Homo sapiens: one gene and its partner. The protein of the gene in region 1 interacts with the protein of each later gene in a biochemical or structural test. Each region holds a gene or a part of one and is shown in the gene's direction. Other genes may lie near its edges.

Region 1 (7,439 bases):
CAGCGAACACTGGATTCTGAGACTGGATAACATTGGATTTCACACATAGAGAAAAGAAAGTAAGCTGGTGCCGGACCTGGTGTTGACACTTGGATCCTCCACTTACCAGCGGGGTGACCTGGACAATTTCTGTAATCCCTCTCACTCAGTTTCCTACTCAGTAAAACGGGGATGATAATGTGCCTTGCAAGGCTTTTGTGAGGCTTCATCAATGAGGTGATGTATGTGAAGTGTCTGGCACAGCATGGGCACTCAAACAGAGGTGCTTTTTCACACTTTACACCTTACAAGGTACTTTTCACATGTGTCATCGCGATACTTGCAAGGTTGCTGAGAGGTAGATGGGGTTATAATCCCTGGTGTTCAAGAAAGGAAGCAGAGGCTCAATGGGGTTGAATGACTTCTCTGAGTTCACAGAGCTCAGTAAGTGGCAGGGTTGGAACTCACATTCAGACTCTCTGACTCCAGACTTAGGTTTTTCCGCACCTCCACGCTGAGGCCAGCCCCAGGCAGTGAGAAGCCCAAAGTCCGAAGCACAGAGTGCTGTGTGTTGGGCTCTGTGTGTTGAGGAGTCTTGTGACTGCCTTGGGGCTTTGGGCTGTAGTCAGCTGACAGTCCTTTGTGCTCTGTGGGGATGACGTAGGCCAATGGGAGGACAAATGCCCCTCTGAACTGTCTTCTGGGCAGTGACAGTCATGGTCATAATCCTGACCCTGAGCCAGTGCCAGGTCTCCAAGTGCCTTCTGAATGACCACAGGCGATTGGTTTTAGTGGTAGGTGTGTGGGGATCTGTTCTGGTCATCTGGATGCTGGTCATCGGTGTGCAGTATTGATCAGGACCTGCAAACCCAAAAGCTTATGGGAGCTGGCACGTCACGTGAGTAGAGCAGGCAGGTGCAGGGGTTTTGATGTCCCTGCACTGACACAGTTGTCTGCAGTTCTCAATTGACATTTCGCTCCAGTGTCGAGGGTCAACAGGAATGTTGGGGCGTGGGGCAATCTGGAAGACACAGGGAGCAGGGCCCTTGGCTCAGCTGATAGTTGCCGCAGGGATTACAGGCCCAGGGCAGCCTGCCACAGCTGGGGCTTTTACCAAAGAAAATCTCCCTATGTTAAATGCTTGCTCAAAAATTTTTAAAAAATATTCTGTAAGTCAAAATCCATTGTTAGGTCAGTTTGAGAGAGCCATGTTTTTGGTGTTTTAGTAACCAATTTCATTTTTTTATTATTTATTTATTTGTTTATTTTTGAGACGGAGTTTCACTCTTGTCACCCAGGCTGGAGTGCAATGGCATGATCTCAGCTCACTGCAACCTCCGCCTCCCGGGTTCAAGCAATTCTCCTGCCTCAGCCTCCTGAGTAGCTGAGATTACAGGTGCCCACCATCACGCCTGGATAATTTTTGTATTTTTTAGTCGAGATGGGGTTTCACCATGTTGGCCAGGATAGTCCTGAACTACTGACCTCAGATAATCCGCCCACCTCAGCCTCCCAAAGTGCTGGGATTACAGGCATGAGCCAGCACGCCCGGCCACCAATTTCATTTTTTAAAAAAGGAAGAAAGAAAACCTTAGCCAGAAGATCTTTTTCCTTGCCATATGCAGTAAGAGTAGATTATAAAAACAAAGTCAGAGCAGTCACTGGTGTCTGGGCATGGAGGAGAAAGAAGAATTCTCTTCTCCCTTCACCCTCCATGCCCCTTTTTGGCTCCATGTGATTCAGATTTCTGGACCCTGGAGCCCCACCCCAAGCTAAAGACCAGGATACAGGGAAGCCAAAAGCCACTGGCGGTTCTGAGAACTTACTTTTCACTTATTCTGCATTTACTGTTTCCTTTTCTTATGCAGAAAAAGAAAAAAACCAAGGTAGGTGTGTGGGTAGAGAGCATGAAGTGTGTGTACTCATGCATATGTATGTGCATGCATGTGAAGTGTGCATGTGTGAGCTCATATGCATCCATGCACCAGACTTGCCTCTTCCTCCCCCTCCTTCCTGAGCTTCTGCTGGGGCCGAGCGTGCAGTAATGACAACTACGATTTGCTGGGGGAAGGCTACGTGCCAAGCACTCTTTTAGGTGCTTTCCATGATTAATTCCTTCCTCACAACAGCCCTATGAGATTAGTACTATAACTATCCCCATTTTCAGAGGGAGAAAAGGTACAGACTTGACTAACTTGCCCAAGGCCACACAGCCAGAGAGGGGCAGAGCCAGTACTTAGAGCCAGGCAGTCTGGGTCCAGAGTCCGTGTCCTGAACCACAAGAGGCCATCATACACCATCAGATTTGGTGCTAGCATTTCTGGTGGTGCCTGGTGGTGATGGATCCATCACAGGGGTCCTCCAGGTACTGGTGCTGGCCCAGACCAGAGCTGACACTCCTCAGGCACTACCACATTCCAGGCACTGTGCTTGGGGTCAGTCCCTCTCTTTTTTTTCCCCCCCAATTATAACAGTATCTACAAAGTAGGTGCTGTTATTTTTCCCCTTTCACAGGTGAGATAGACTCAAAGAAGTGAACTTGCCCAAGGAACAGAACTAATGAGTGGGGAAAATGGAACTGGAAACCATGTCTGTTTACTCCAAAACCTGTGTTTCTTGCCCTCTTTCTCTGATGCCAGCCCCCTACACTTCAAGGCCTGTGTTGTCCAGACCCACACTCGGGCCTGCCAGTGTGTGCCTGGCAGGGATGCTCCATGGCCACACCATATCCATCCTACACATCCCCCCTCAGACTGTGACCTCCATTTGCTCTGGGATCCCCACAAGCTTCAGCTGCTTGAGCAAGACACTGCTTAGAAGGCAGAGCAAGCCAAGGCCTCTGGGGCCTGCTGGGAGCCAAAGCTGGGGAGCCGTTTCCACGGGTCTATCTGCTTGAGCTGTCCTAGATGAGCAGCATGGAAGGGCAGTGGTGCATGAGTCCAGGCGGGCTGCTTTTCTGCTCCGAGAGGCTCTGCCTGCCCAGTTGTTCTCTGCATTGCAGCCTCAATCCCCACAGCCTTGCCTTCCCCCGGCTTTCCCTACAGGTGCACCGCATCCACAGTGTTGGCACCATGCAGCAGCCGCTCTCCGTCCTTTTCATATCCTTGTCACTTGCACGAGCATGTCTTGAAAATATCCCTTGTTTGTGTAGCATCTTAAATGTTTTTGCAGTATGATTTTGCATTCAGTATCTCATTTGATCCCCACAAGAGCCCTATGAGGAGGGAAAGCAGATTTTACCATTAAAGGATGAGTAAACTGAGGCCAGAGAGGATATTTTTGGTTTTTTTTGAGACAGTCTCACTCTGTCACCCAGCCTGGAGTGCAGTGGCTTGATCTTGGCTCACTGCAAGCTCCACCTCCCATGTTCACACCATTTTCCTGCCTCAGCCTCCCAAGTAGCTGGGACTACAGGCACCCACCACCACACCCAGCTAATTTTTTTGTATCTTTAGTAGAGATGGGGTTTCACCCAGTTAGCCAGGATGGTCTTGATCTCCTGACCTTGTGATCTGCCTGCTTCGGCCTCCTAAAGTGCTGGGATTACAGGCGTGAGCCACCGTGCCCGGCCAGAGAGGATATTTCTTATATGAGGGGCAGGGCTGGGATTCCAGCCCAGTGTTCTGATGGCTCACCCACTGACCATGCCACTAATCCGTGTCCTTTTTCAATCTATACTTTGCAGGGTTGTAGAGGTTCCTTTGAGGTGCCTCAGTAGCTGCCATGGTGATGTGGGGTGCTGAGGGCAAAGAGCTCTGTTCTCATTAATCAGAGAAGCTTGTGTTTTTATATACACCATGTTTCTGCAGGAAATTTAATTTGAACAGTGTTTCCATCTGGAAAAAAAAAAGTCTACAAAATACTTGACAATCACTGCACTAGATCATGCTGCTTTTAGCATTCTTAGCATTTCACGTGCTGAGCTCTCAATACTCTACCATGAGGAGGGATGGAGTGGGTATGAAAAGATAAAGAACTGAAGTCACACGGCTTGTCAGTGGCAGAGATAGAGCTTGAACCGAGGTTGAAGAGCTCCCGCCTATTCCTTTCCTCTTCTCACTGGATAAAGCTGCTCCAAGAGAGGTGCTGCCTCAGTGTGCCTGTTCAGACTGTAATCCTCCCTTCCTTCCTGCCTCCTCCCTCCTCTCTCCAGCCCATCATCTTCGTTTCGGACAGAGCAAACAGCAACAAGGAGCTGGGTGTGGACCAGGAGTCAGAGGAGGGCAAAGGCAAAACAAGCCCTGATAAGCAAAAGCAGTCCCCACAGGTGTCTGGGCATGTGGCATGGGTGGGGTGGCCAGCACGCTACAGGGGCTTCCTATGCGCTTGGGATACACAGGGGCTGGAGGCTTCCCAGGAGTTTGTCTTGAACATCTGGAGGTTTGAATTTGTCCCACTGACCTTTTCTTTCAGCAAGTTCCCCTGAAATTTGGGCTGCTGCTTGGGTGAATATCCCAGGATGGGGGTTCCATTCTAGGAGTGGACTGGCAGGCTGAGCCTCCCATGGAGCTGATCCAGCCAGGATACAGAGAAGGGGAGGCAAAGGCTGAGACAGAACCAGCTTGAGAGCGGAGGCGCAACTCTTGTCTCCTGGTGGCCTTGAGCATTTCACAATAGGGGGATAAAGGATAGGAGCAGAAAAGTGGGGCTGACTTCAGAAATGGGGTCCTCTAGAGCTCACGGGAGGGTGTTAGATTGGAGTGGGAGCTTAGTGGAGGTGAGCCTTAGAGGCAAAAGTCTCCAGACCAATCCAGGGCCCCTCTTCTATCCGGGGGCCCCTCTTCTATCCAGGGCCCCTCTTCTGTCTGGGAGCCCCTCTTCTATCTGGGGCCTCATGCAGTGGGGCCTAGGGGAGGTTCTCTGAGGACTTGGCCTTGATGACAGGGTGGCTGGAGGAATCAGAACGGTCAGACCTTCTTTGACCTGCGGGCACCTTTAGTTGGAATGGTCAGGCCTGGGATGGTGGAGGGGGCTCTTGCAGGTGGGGACTGGGGTGGCGGGGAGGAGGCTGTATGGCCGCCATATCTCCTTTGGCTGGGGGCGTCAGGGCTGGAGAGGTGTGAAGAGTCCCTGAGGCCTCGATGCATCTCACTCCAGCTCACCAGGTCTGCATTTGCCCGTCCCCAGCTCCTGCTGCCACCTCCGGCCGTTTTAGGCACTTGGCTCCCTTGGCCCAGAGGAGCTTGCCTCACAGGCCTGTGCACCTCTGACCCCTGTGAACCAGTTTTCCTTTGTGCCTCCACAGCCACAGCCTGGCAGCTCTGATCAGGAAAGTGAGGAACAGCAACAATTCCGGAACATTTTCAAGCAGATAGCAGGAGATGTGAGTACCTCCAAGCCCAGGACGCCCACAGGTGCTTCCTTCTCTCCTGGATTAACTGCTCAGATTACCAATTATTTCATTATTGTTTGGTAGAGGTCACTTTGGACTTTGGTGGAGCCAGGGGATGTGTGCGTAGCACACAAATCCACAAGCCCTTGAGTTTTGGACTGCCACGTCTGCTGGGGGGCTCAGAGGCCTTTTTGCTCTGAGCTGCCCACGGTGGTCCTGATAGCTGAGGTGCAGTATCTGGCCCCCTGTCTTCCTCAGAAAAGCCCCAGCTTCCCATGACATAATAGCACCGACAGGGATTTTACAAACACAGCCAGGTGGAATTTGTTTTGCAAAGTGTCCGCGCCAGGAGCTGCTGTACTCCTGAACCATGACCCTCCTCTCCCTTCCTCCTCAGGACATGGAGATCTGTGCAGATGAGCTCAAGAAGGTCCTTAACACAGTCGTGAACAAACGTGAGTTGCTCAAACCAAATGGGGGTGGGGTGGGTGGGGAGTCCCGTTGTCTCAAAGCAGCTCCTCACTCTTCTCCATCCCCCCAGACAAGGACCTGAAGACACACGGGTTCACACTGGAGTCCTGCCGTAGCATGATTGCGCTCATGGATGTATCCTTCCTGCCGCCCCTTCCCGACCCTCTGTCATCAGCCCACGGGGGCCAAGGCAACATACAGGGTGCCCAGTCAGGCAAAGGGCCCTAATTTGTGCCCAGGGAAACTTAAGGAGACCCTGATTCAGAACATCTTGGATACTCGTCTGAAAGGGGTTGTTAGAGGCGGAAGGGGAGGATGTTGGGTTGTAACTGCCCTAACCCCTGTGCTTCTCTCAGGCCTGGGATCCTGCCCAAGCAAAAGTGGTCCTTAGGAGAGCGGCTCCTGGGTTACAGAGTAGGCGCAATCTCTGACTGGTGGTGGAGTGGAGGGGAGGGTTAAATAGTACAACAGGGCAGTGGGTAGGACAGCCCGGAGTCTCCTAGACCCTCCCTCCAAATCCAGGGGGATTTTGCTGTGTGCTGTGTAGCCCTGACCTCCCTCCTCCAGACAGATGGCTCTGGAAAGCTCAACCTGCAGGAGTTCCACCACCTCTGGAACAAGATTAAGGCCTGGCAGGTGGGAAGAGAAAATGAAGCGTGGGAGTCAAGAATGGGGTTGATTTGGAGATTCAGTGTGTGACCTCCATCCTCAAATTTTCTATTGCCAGAAAATTTTCAAACACTATGACACAGACCAGTCCGGCACCATCAACAGCTACGAGATGCGAAATGCAGTCAACGACGCAGGTGCTGAGAAGGAAGGGGTGGCAGGGATGTGGACCCGAGACGGTGGGAGCAGGAATGGGAGGGGACTAGGCTACTAGGGCCCCACTAGAGAAAGGAGAGGGAAAGGGCTTCTCACTTTCCCTTCCCAGGTCACAGAGTGGCCGAGAGGCAGGGAAAATAGAAGGCAGGCCCAAGGCCTCCAGCTCCACGTCCACCTCTAACATGGTCCCCTCCACAGGATTCCACCTCAACAACCAGCTCTATGACATCATTACCATGCGGTACGCAGACAAACACATGAACATCGACTTTGACAGTTTCATCTGCTGCTTCGTTAGGCTGGAGGGCATGTTCAGTAAGTGGGAGAGGGGGGCTGCCCTCTGCTCTCTTGCAGGGGCAGTTGTGGCAACAGGCATCTCACCTGATAATCTCCAGTCTGCTCCATCCAGGCTGAACAAGGGCCAATGACCTCTTTAGGCCCAGAATGGGATGGCAAAGGGAGGGTTACTGGTGATTCTCTGCCTGCACATCTTTGTGCTGATGAGGGACAGCACTGGGCACATGGTCCTCTGAGGGGAAGTTACAGTAGTAGAGGCGGAGTGCGCCTGTAACTGGCCTCTGGCCTGTGCATTCTTTCACAGGAGCTTTTCATGCATTTGACAAGGATGGAGATGGTATCATCAAGCTCAACGTTCTGGAGGTAAAGCATAGGCACAGCACATTCCCCCTACACATTAAAACTCAAGGTGGAGGGGTCAACGGGGCGGACTGGACCCAGGGTGTGCTCCTCATTTCCACACAGTGGTGGAGGGAAGGGATAGGAACAGAACATGGAGGGAGGCTCAGCAGGCTCCCAGGACACATGCACTTGA
Region 2 (9,191 bases), on another chromosome or scaffold:
GCTAACCTTTGACCTCTGACCCCTAGGTGACCGTGCTCTTTGCTGGCCAGAACATTGAACGCAGTCCCTTTGAGGTGAACGTGGGCATGGCCCTGGGAGATGCCAACAAGGTGTCAGCCCGTGGCCCTGGCCTGGAACCTGTGGGCAATGTGGCCAACAAACCCACCTACTTTGACATCTACACTGCGGGTAGGACGGGCCCCAGGGGGTGCAGGTGGAAAGCCCCTGACCATGTGGGGCTGTGTGGGGGTGGGGGGAGGCTGGGACAGGGATGCCAGCCAGAGGGTGGGCAGCCTCAGGGTGAGGGCACCGGGGCAGCTGTGTGTGTCCAGAGTGGTGCTGACAGCCTCTGTTTTCGGCAGGGGCCGGCACTGGCGATGTTGCTGTGGTGATCGTGGACCCACAGGGCCGGCGGGACACAGTGGAGGTGGCCCTGGAGGACAAGGGTGACAGCACGTTCCGCTGCACATACAGACCTGCCATGGAGGGGCCACATACCGTGCATGTGGCCTTTGCGGGTGCCCCCATCACCCGCAGTCCCTTCCCTGTCCATGTGTCGGAAGGTAAGGGCCCTTCACTGCTCCCCACGGTAGCCCTTACCAAAGCCAGAGGCTTGCAAGGGGCAGGAGGAAGAGCTGGGGCGGGGGTCTGCAGAGACCCCCTCCCTGAGTCCTCCATCCCACCCCCAAGGTGGCTGGAGTTCCTAAGAGCACAGCTGGGAGGCCACAGTGAAGGGTCCCAGAACATGTGCCACCCTGGGAGGGCTGAGCGGAAGTGACGGGGCTGTATGGGTGGGGGCATATCTAGGGAGTACTGCCTGCATGCCAAGCCCTCAGGTGGTGACTGCCCCACTTGTTCTCTCCCTGCACTCAGTGCCCATCGTCCACCAGGCCGAGAGTGATGCCACATTAATGCTCTCCAGTGGAGGCGGGGCCAGGCATGGCCGCAGCTGACTGGCCTCACCTGTGCTGTGTGGCATGGCCCGGGCCGTGTGGAATCGCCCCCCCTTCCTTGGCATTCTGTGGCAGGCCCCAGGTTCCATGCCGTTGTCTGTGTTCTGTGGCAGGTCTAGTGTCTTTGCCACTTGCCTGGTGATTTCTATGATGAAATCTGGGCTCTGAGCCATTGCCTGTGTTCCGTGGTACCCCTTGGGCAGTGCCATCGCCTATGGTCATGGTAGTCCTGGAATATGTGTCGTGTCCTGTTTCGTAGCACCTGTGGGTCCCATGCCATTTTTCTGGATTCTGTGGCAGGCTGAGATTCCCATTCCTTTGCCTGTGTTCCATAGCAAGGCCTGGGCTCATTGCCACTGGCCACGGTCTGTGGTAGGCTGATGTCCACACGTTGCCTGTGTTGTATGGCAGGCTTCGAGTTCTATGAAGTAGCCCTTGTTCTGTGGCATTGCTGGATGTTTTGTGGCATGACTTAGATCCTAAGGTTGCTTTGGTGCCCTGAGAGGCCCAGAGGGCTCTAGATGGATGGCCTTGGGCTGGGTAAAGGGGCCTTCCCTGTCTCTCTGAGCCCACTCTCAGCCCAGGCTCTGCCATGCATTTCCCCAGTGGCACTGGCTCGGAAACTTTCTTGTAACCTGCCTGATCTGGGGCCTGTAGCCAGCTCCAGCCCGGCAGCCCCGGTTGTGCTGGGGACACAAAGGGCTCCAGAGCAGGGCCGTGGGCCACTGCCTGTGCCTGGGAGGGGTTAGAAGGACTGTGCACAGGGAGGTGGGGGCTAGTGGTCCAAGGCCCCTCAGCACCCCCAACCTCCTTTCTCTTCCTCCCCTAGCCTGTAACCCCAACGCCTGCCGCGCCTCTGGGCGAGGCCTGCAGCCCAAGGGTGTTCGCGTGAAAGAGGTGGCTGACTTCAAGGTGTTTACCAAGGGTGCCGGCAGCGGGGAGCTCAAGGTCACGGTCAAGGGGCCAAGTGAGTGCCAGAGCCCAGGGTCGTGAGGGTGGGGCTGGGGGATCATAAGGGAAGTATGGCCAGTGGTTCTGACTCCCAGAGGGCAGTGACAGCCAGCACCACAGCTCCACAGTGACCAGAGGCACCCCAGAATCTCAGGCTCATTGTCTCCTCTCTGCCTCAGTTTCTTGGTCTACAAGCCAGGAATGATTCTCTCCACCCTAAGTGCTATACGGGGTGTTATGCACAGGGATGACAAGTGTTCCCTGCCCTGAGTTGCAGCACTGCTCACTACAGCACTGCCCTCGGGCTGGGTCGGGGTCCCAATGGCTCCTTGAGGGGATTGAGGAGCTGGGACTTCAAGGATATTGATCTGCCTTCTTCCCCACCCTGCCCCCATCTCCTCAGAGGGCACAGAGGAGCCAGTGAAGGTGCGGGAGGCTGGGGATGGTGTGTTCGAGTGCGAGTACTACCCGGTGGTGCCTGGGAAGTATGTGGTGACCATCACGTGGGGCGGCTACGCCATCCCTCGCAGGTGAGTACCTTGCGCCCCCCATGCTGTCCTGTCTAGGCCATCACAGGGAGGGACGAGGGGCACTGGGCTGCGAGGGAGTTTGAGGGGAGATGGAGTTTGGGCTGCGAGGGACTTTGGGGGGCACTTCCTGGCATGGACACCAGCTCCCTCTCTGCCCAGCCCCTTTGAGGTACAGGTGAGCCCAGAGGCAGGAGTGCAAAAGGTCCGGGCCTGGGGTCCTGGTTTGGAGACTGGCCAGGTGGGCAAGTCAGCCGATTTTGTGGTGGAAGCCATTGGCACCGAGGTGGGGACACTGGGTAAGTGGCTGGGGGGCAGGAGGAGGGAGTGCTGCGGGGGAGGGCAGCAGGGGACACTGTGGGTAATGGGTGCAGTGCGCATGCTGGGGAGCGCTGGGGTGAGCAGGGAGATAGGACATGAGGGCAGCTAGAGGGGAGCTGGGGGACGGAAGGGTCTTGCCTGATGCTGGATCCCCGACCCTCCCCCACCTTGCCCCAGGCTTCTCCATCGAGGGGCCCTCACAAGCCAAGATCGAATGTGACGACAAGGGGGATGGCTCCTGCGATGTGCGGTACTGGCCCACGGAGCCTGGGGAGTACGCTGTGCACGTCATCTGTGACGATGAGGACATCCGAGACTCACCCTTCATTGCCCACATCCTGCCCGCCCCACCTGACTGCTTCCCAGATAAGGTGTGGTCCCAGCTCACACACACCTGCCCCGGGGGTGGGGCAAGCTGGTTCTCCTCCCCTCCCCAACTCAGCCTTCTTCCCTCCGCACAGGTGAAGGCCTTTGGGCCTGGCCTGGAGCCTACCGGCTGCATCGTGGACAAGCCCGCTGAGTTCACCATTGATGCTCGTGCAGCTGGCAAGGGAGACCTGAAGCTCTATGCCCAGGTAGGTCATTGTCCAGTCTCTGCTGCCCTTACTACCCATGGCAGGGACCCTGGAAGGCAGGGCCAGGCCAGAGGCAGAGGCCTCCCAGCAGGAAATGACAGCATCACAGAAGATCAGGCAGGACTGATACTCATGGGCCCATCAGTACCATGGAAAATTTTAAATTTTGTGTTTTCTTAACGATGATAACCTAAAAACGTATTTTACCAAAGAGTCATTTTTGTGCTAATTTGTAATTGAAAGATTGTTTCATTGAATAAGACACTGGTTTCCCAAGTCAGTTTCTCAGACTGGTGTCCATTGACCCCTAGAGGTTAATGAACATATTCTTGAGGATCTAAGAGGGTGATTCTTCTTTGAAAGGCTCATGATTCAGTTTTAGGAACATAAATTTAGCCCACACTCTTCCTGTCCAACACATTTCAGAGTTGAGGAAACCTAGGCTGGGAGAGCAAGCCATACAGATGGCCTTGAGTCAGGCTCCCAGGGTGGGCTCTGGCCGCCAGAGCACGTGGCCCTGGGCTCTGGTGGCCTCAGTGGCTGGTGTGGGGGCGGGAGTGCCAGTGTTGGGGGTGGGAAAGGAGGCGCTGGGTTCACCTGCGGCCAGCAGAGGGCGCTCTGCAGAGGCCACAGCTATGAACTTTGCTTGGGTGATGCCCACAGGACGCCGACGGCTGTCCCATCGACATCAAGGTGATCCCCAACGGCGACGGCACCTTCCGCTGCTCCTACGTGCCCACCAAGCCCATTAAGCACACCATCATCATCTCCTGGGGAGGCGTAAACGTGCCCAAGAGCCCCTTCCGGGTGCGTCCTCCCGGCCTGCCCCGTGCCCACCACCAGGGGTCCCTGAGGGAGGGCGGAACCCTCGCTGGAGTCCCTGTTGTCCCTGGGCTCAGGCTGGGACTGAGGCTTGGGCTGGTGCCACTGAGGCTGGGCCGGGTGCGCTGGGCAGGAGGATGAGCCTTGAGGGAGGGCACCACGCTGAGCTGCGACCCCTCCCGCAGGTGAACGTGGGCGAGGGCAGCCACCCCGAGCGGGTAAAGGTGTACGGCCCCGGAGTGGAGAAGACAGGCCTCAAGGCCAATGAGCCCACCTACTTCACGGTGGACTGCAGCGAGGCGGGGCAAGGTGCGCCCAGCCGGAAGGGGTGGGTCTGGGAGGGGGCGGGGGTGAGTCGAGTCGGGGGCTGAGCCCAACTCACAGCAGTGCCCGCTTCTCTGCAGGCGACGTGAGCATCGGCATCAAGTGCGCCCCAGGCGTGGTGGGCCCTGCAGAGGCTGACATTGACTTCGACATCATCAAGAATGACAACGACACCTTCACCGTCAAGTACACGCCACCAGGGGCGGGCCGCTACACCATCATGGTGCTGTTTGCCAACCAGGTACCTAAGCTCCTGGGTACTCACAGCGACATGCACCTGCCAGCTCCAGAAGGCAGCTGGAGATGCTGTCACTGGGAACAGGGAGGGATGATTCCGCAGACATGGTGGAGCCCTACCTGTGTGAGGCAGGGTGCCTCAGAGGAAGCAAAGGGGGCCCTTTTGGAGGCTGCCCCTGTCCATGCTGGGTCCCCTGGGTGTGTCCTGAGCCAGCATCTAGCTGAGAGCAGGGGTGTGTTCCCCTCGAGAGCCCTGACTGAGCCTCCTCCACATCCAGGAGATCCCCGCCAGCCCCTTCCACATCAAGGTGGACCCATCCCACGATGCCAGCAAAGTCAAGGCCGAGGGCCCTGGGCTGAATCGCACAGGTGAGTGTCTGGGCAGGGGCTGGGACTGGCTCGAGGTTGGGGTTAGGTGGCTGCCAGGCCCTCACCACATCTCTGGGTGGGTCCTCAGGTGTGGAAGTCGGGAAGCCCACCCACTTCACGGTGCTGACCAAGGGAGCCGGCAAGGCCAAGCTGGATGTGCAGTTTGCAGGGACAGCCAAGGGCGAGGTTGTGCGGGACTTTGAGATCATAGACAACCATGACTACTCCTACACTGTCAAGTACACCGCTGTCCAGCAGGTGCGCTCTGCCCCTCCCATGCTACCGCCCGGCCGGCCCGCCAGAGCCCTGGGTCTCCCTCCTCCAGTCCCATGGGACCAGTTCTGGATCCTCCACGCCTTTCCTGCCTCCTGCCCTCACTCTCATGGTGGATCTGAGCTTCAGAGCCCATATTCACCACCAGGATGTTGTAGGACCTTGCCTTATATCCAGTTCTGACCTACCATTGTACCCAACAGGGCAACATGGCAGTGACAGTGACTTATGGCGGGGACCCTGTCCCCAAGAGCCCCTTTGTGGTGAATGTGGCACCCCCGCTGGACCTCAGCAAAATCAAAGTTCAGGGCCTTAATAGCAGTAAGTGGGGCAAGAGCCACCCTGGGAGTGAGGGGTATTCGGGTAGGGTGGACCGGAGTCTCCTCATGGTGTCACTTGCCCTCCACGCAGAGGTGGCTGTGGGACAGGAACAAGCATTCTCTGTGAACACACGAGGGGCTGGCGGTCAGGGCCAACTGGATGTGCGGATGACTTCGCCCTCTCGCCGGCCCATCCCCTGCAAGCTGGAGCCAGGCGGTGGAGCGGAAGCCCAGGCTGTGCGCTACATGCCCCCGGAGGAGGGGCCCTACAAGGTGGATATCACCTACGATGGTCACCCGGTGCCTGGCAGCCCGTTTGCTGTGGAGGGTGTCCTGCCCCCTGATCCCTCCAAGGTGAGGAGATAGGAGCTGGTTGGGGCTGGGAGTTGGGGACTTGTTGGGAAGATAGATGAGTCATAGGGGGCAGAGGCCAGAGGGACTTATGTGCCTGGAGTGGGCACAGCCAAGGGTGTGGGGCTGAGGCCAGCCCCACCCCACCACCTGCCTTGGAGACAACTTAGCTATTAAGAGCCTGGCCTTGGAGTCACACCTGGGCTTGAATCCCAGGTCCACTAACTGGGGCAAATTGCTTCATCTCGCTGCCTCAATGTCATCACCTGGGATTGTTATAAGCACTCAGTCCACAGTAGCAGCCACAGTTGGAGGTGATGAGTTGGGTGGGGGCCATGAAGGCTGGGATGAGGAGGCCAGGTGCAGGGAACCCACAACCTGCCTCTTCCCCTAGGTCTGTGCTTATGGCCCGGGTCTCAAGGGTGGACTGGTAGGCACCCCCGCGCCATTCTCCATCGACACCAAGGGGGCTGGCACAGGTGGCCTGGGGCTGACCGTAGAGGGCCCCTGCGAGGCCAAGATCGAGTGCCAGGACAATGGTGATGGCTCATGTGCTGTCAGCTACCTGCCCACGGAGCCTGGCGAGTACACCATCAACATCCTGTTTGCTGAGGCCCACATCCCTGGCTCGCCCTTCAAAGCCACCATTCGGCCTGTGTTTGACCCGAGCAAGGTGCGGGCCAGTGGACCGGGCCTGGAGCGCGGCAAGGTCGGTGAGGCAGCCACCTTCACTGTGGACTGCTCAGAGGCAGGCGAGGCGGAGCTGACCATTGAGATCCTGTCGGATGCCGGGGTCAAGGCCGAGGTGCTGATCCACAACAACGCGGATGGCACCTACCACATCACCTACAGCCCTGCCTTCCCTGGCACCTACACCATTACCATCAAGTATGGCGGGCATCCCGTGCCCAAATTCCCCACCCGTGTCCATGTGCAGCCTGCGGTCGATACCAGTGGCGTCAAGGTCTCAGGGCCTGGTGTTGAGCCACACGGTGAGTGGACAGGAGGAGCCAAGAAAGGTCAAGTGGCAGGTGCAGGAGCTGGGTAGTCCGTGGGAGGGAGGGAAGAAGAGCTGAGAGCTGGAAGAGCAACCTGGGGTGAAGGGAGGGCTCTCGGAGCAGCCCCAGAGTCCTTACTGGCCCAGAAACCCCAGAGAAGGAGTGGAGGGGAAGACCGGGGGTGGAGATTGGCCTCTGCTCTTGTGGCAAAACTGCACCTGCCTCTGGGCGTTTTTCTGGAGAGATCTCTTCTTTCATGTGCTTAAGGGGTACCCTGATCCAAAAAGCTAAAACTCTGCTCTGGACGGGGGCACGGGGAAAGCTTTGGGGTAGAGGATGACAAGAGTCAGAAGACAGTAAGTGGGAATGGGCCATCTGCCAGGGGCCAGACCCTGGCTAGGCATGGGCCACGGCAGAGGGATGCAAGACCCAGGCCCACAGCCTGGTGGGTGACTCAAGTGAACAGAGAATGTCACTACATGGAGAAGGGAGTGAAGGCAGAGGCTGGAGCTCACAGAGGTGCAGGGGAGGGTGTGGGGCCCAGGCTCCGATTAGAGGAGCAGCCTGGGAGTTGGGGAGTGGGAGAGGAGGGGGAGAGGAGGGTGAGAGGAGGGGAAGAGGAGGGGAAGAGGAGAGGGAGAGGAGAGGGAAAGGAGGGGGAGAGGAGAGGGAGCATCTGTGTGAAGGCTGCCCCCACCCCTGCTGAACACGCCACCCCTGGGCTCCAGGTGTCCTGCGGGAGGTGACCACTGAGTTCACTGTGGATGCAAGATCCCTAACAGCCACAGGCGGCAACCACGTGACGGCTCGTGTGCTCAACCCCTCGGGGGCCAAGACAGACACCTATGTGACAGACAATGGGGACGGCACCTACCGAGTGCAGTACACCGCCTACGAGGAGGGTGAGGGCCGGTGGGCCAGGCTAGTGGGCAGGGCTGGGCAAGTGGGCAGGGCCGGGATCTGATGATATTGCCCTCGGGGCAGGAGGGGTGGTGGGGGCGCACACTCCCTGATTGATGCCCCTGTGGCTGGCTTCCAGGCGTGCATCTGGTGGAGGTCCTGTATGATGAGGTCGCTGTGCCCAAGAGCCCCTTCCGAGTGGGCGTGACCGAGGGCTGTGATCCCACCCGCGTCCGAGCCTTCGGGCCAGGCCTGGAGGGTGGCTTGGTCAACAAGGCCAACCGATTCACTGTGGAGACCAGGTATCCTCCCCCTTTGCTAGCCTAAATCTGTGACCACCCTTTCCCAGCCCCTGGCCCTCCTCGCTCATCCCTCTGCCTGGGCCTCAGCCCCACCCCATCCTCTCTCAGGGGTGAGGCAGGAGCAGACCCCCTCCAGGACCCCAGATTGGCCCCTGTAGCTCGTTTCTCCTCAGCTGGGTCCCCAGCGGCCTGCCCTCTTTCCTCCCTGTCCCCCCATTCAGCTACTCCCTCATCCTCACTCACTGGTCTTATGAAGCTGATGGGGGGATGTTATCTCTCAGGGGAGCGGGCACCGGGGGCCTTGGCCTAGCCATCGAGGGTCCCTCGGAAGCCAAGATGTCCTGCAAGGACAACAAGGATGGTAGCTGCACCGTGGAGTACATCCCCTTCACTCCTGGAGACTATGACGTCAACATCACCTTCGGGGGGCGGCCCATCCCAGGTGTGCAGAGAGAGTGGTCGGGGTCTCAGGGAAGACAAGGGAGGGTGCAGGATGCTCGCCCCACAAGGGGGAAACTGGAAGGAAGTTGGGTAAGAATGTTCATAGAGAGGACAGCCTAGAGTGGGTTGGGGCCGGAGCCCGGCCAGAGGGAGGACGTGGAGGAGGCAGGCAATGAGGGTTGATGTGACAGCCCCCCTAGTCAATCACAGGAACACACTCTGGCCTCCTAGCCCCTTGTCTGGAGCTCAAGACCTTGGCTTTGCAGGTCCACCACTCACTGTGTGTCCAGAAACTCAGACACAGTCCACTCCTCTTGGCGGCTCAGGCCAGCCTTGGGCCTTCTTGCACGCATCGTCTGCAGAACTCCCCTGCCCTCTGCAGACCCAGCTGCCCGGGCAGGTCATGTCTTCAAATATTGTATGACTTGGGACTGCTGAAATTGGAAATTTTTTCCCTTATCTAATTTCCCATCTTTTTATTATTTCAGCCACAGTGTCAGAAATACATTTCATTTTTGAAAACATTT

What was found.
Region 2: of the proteins of CAPN3 (region 1) and FLNC, one has a biochemical effect on the other in vitro, tested with the Homo sapiens proteins (one study listed by BioGRID).

What each region holds. Positions count from the first base shown.
Region 1 is NC_000015.10:42,404,079-42,411,517, forward strand, and holds part of CAPN3 (calpain-3), read left to right. Parts: intron 1-685; exon of another isoform or gene 686-877; intron 878-1,847; coding exon 1,848-1,865; intron 1,866-4,132; coding exon 4,133-4,246; intron 4,247-5,224; coding exon 5,225-5,302; intron 5,303-5,708; coding exon 5,709-5,766; intron 5,767-5,852; coding exon 5,853-5,917; intron 5,918-6,349; coding exon 6,350-6,418; intron 6,419-6,509; coding exon 6,510-6,588; intron 6,589-6,805; coding exon 6,806-6,922; intron 6,923-7,208; coding exon 7,209-7,267; intron 7,268-7,439. UniProt on the Homo sapiens protein: Calcium-regulated non-lysosomal thiol-protease. Proteolytically cleaves CTBP1 at 'His-409'. Mediates, with UTP25, the proteasome-independent degradation of p53/TP53.
Region 2 is NC_000007.14:128,838,241-128,847,431, forward strand, and holds part of FLNC (filamin-C), read left to right. Parts: intron 1-26; coding exon 27-189; intron 190-362; coding exon 363-563; intron 564-1,782; coding exon 1,783-1,920; intron 1,921-2,307; coding exon 2,308-2,434; intron 2,435-2,593; coding exon 2,594-2,730; intron 2,731-2,929; coding exon 2,930-3,123; intron 3,124-3,213; coding exon 3,214-3,327; intron 3,328-3,990; coding exon 3,991-4,134; intron 4,135-4,334; coding exon 4,335-4,458; intron 4,459-4,553; coding exon 4,554-4,714; intron 4,715-4,988; coding exon 4,989-5,079; intron 5,080-5,167; coding exon 5,168-5,337; intron 5,338-5,555; coding exon 5,556-5,673; intron 5,674-5,763; coding exon 5,764-6,026; intron 6,027-6,417; coding exon 6,418-7,015; intron 7,016-7,749; coding exon 7,750-7,923; intron 7,924-8,060; coding exon 8,061-8,223; intron 8,224-8,504; coding exon 8,505-8,665; intron 8,666-9,191.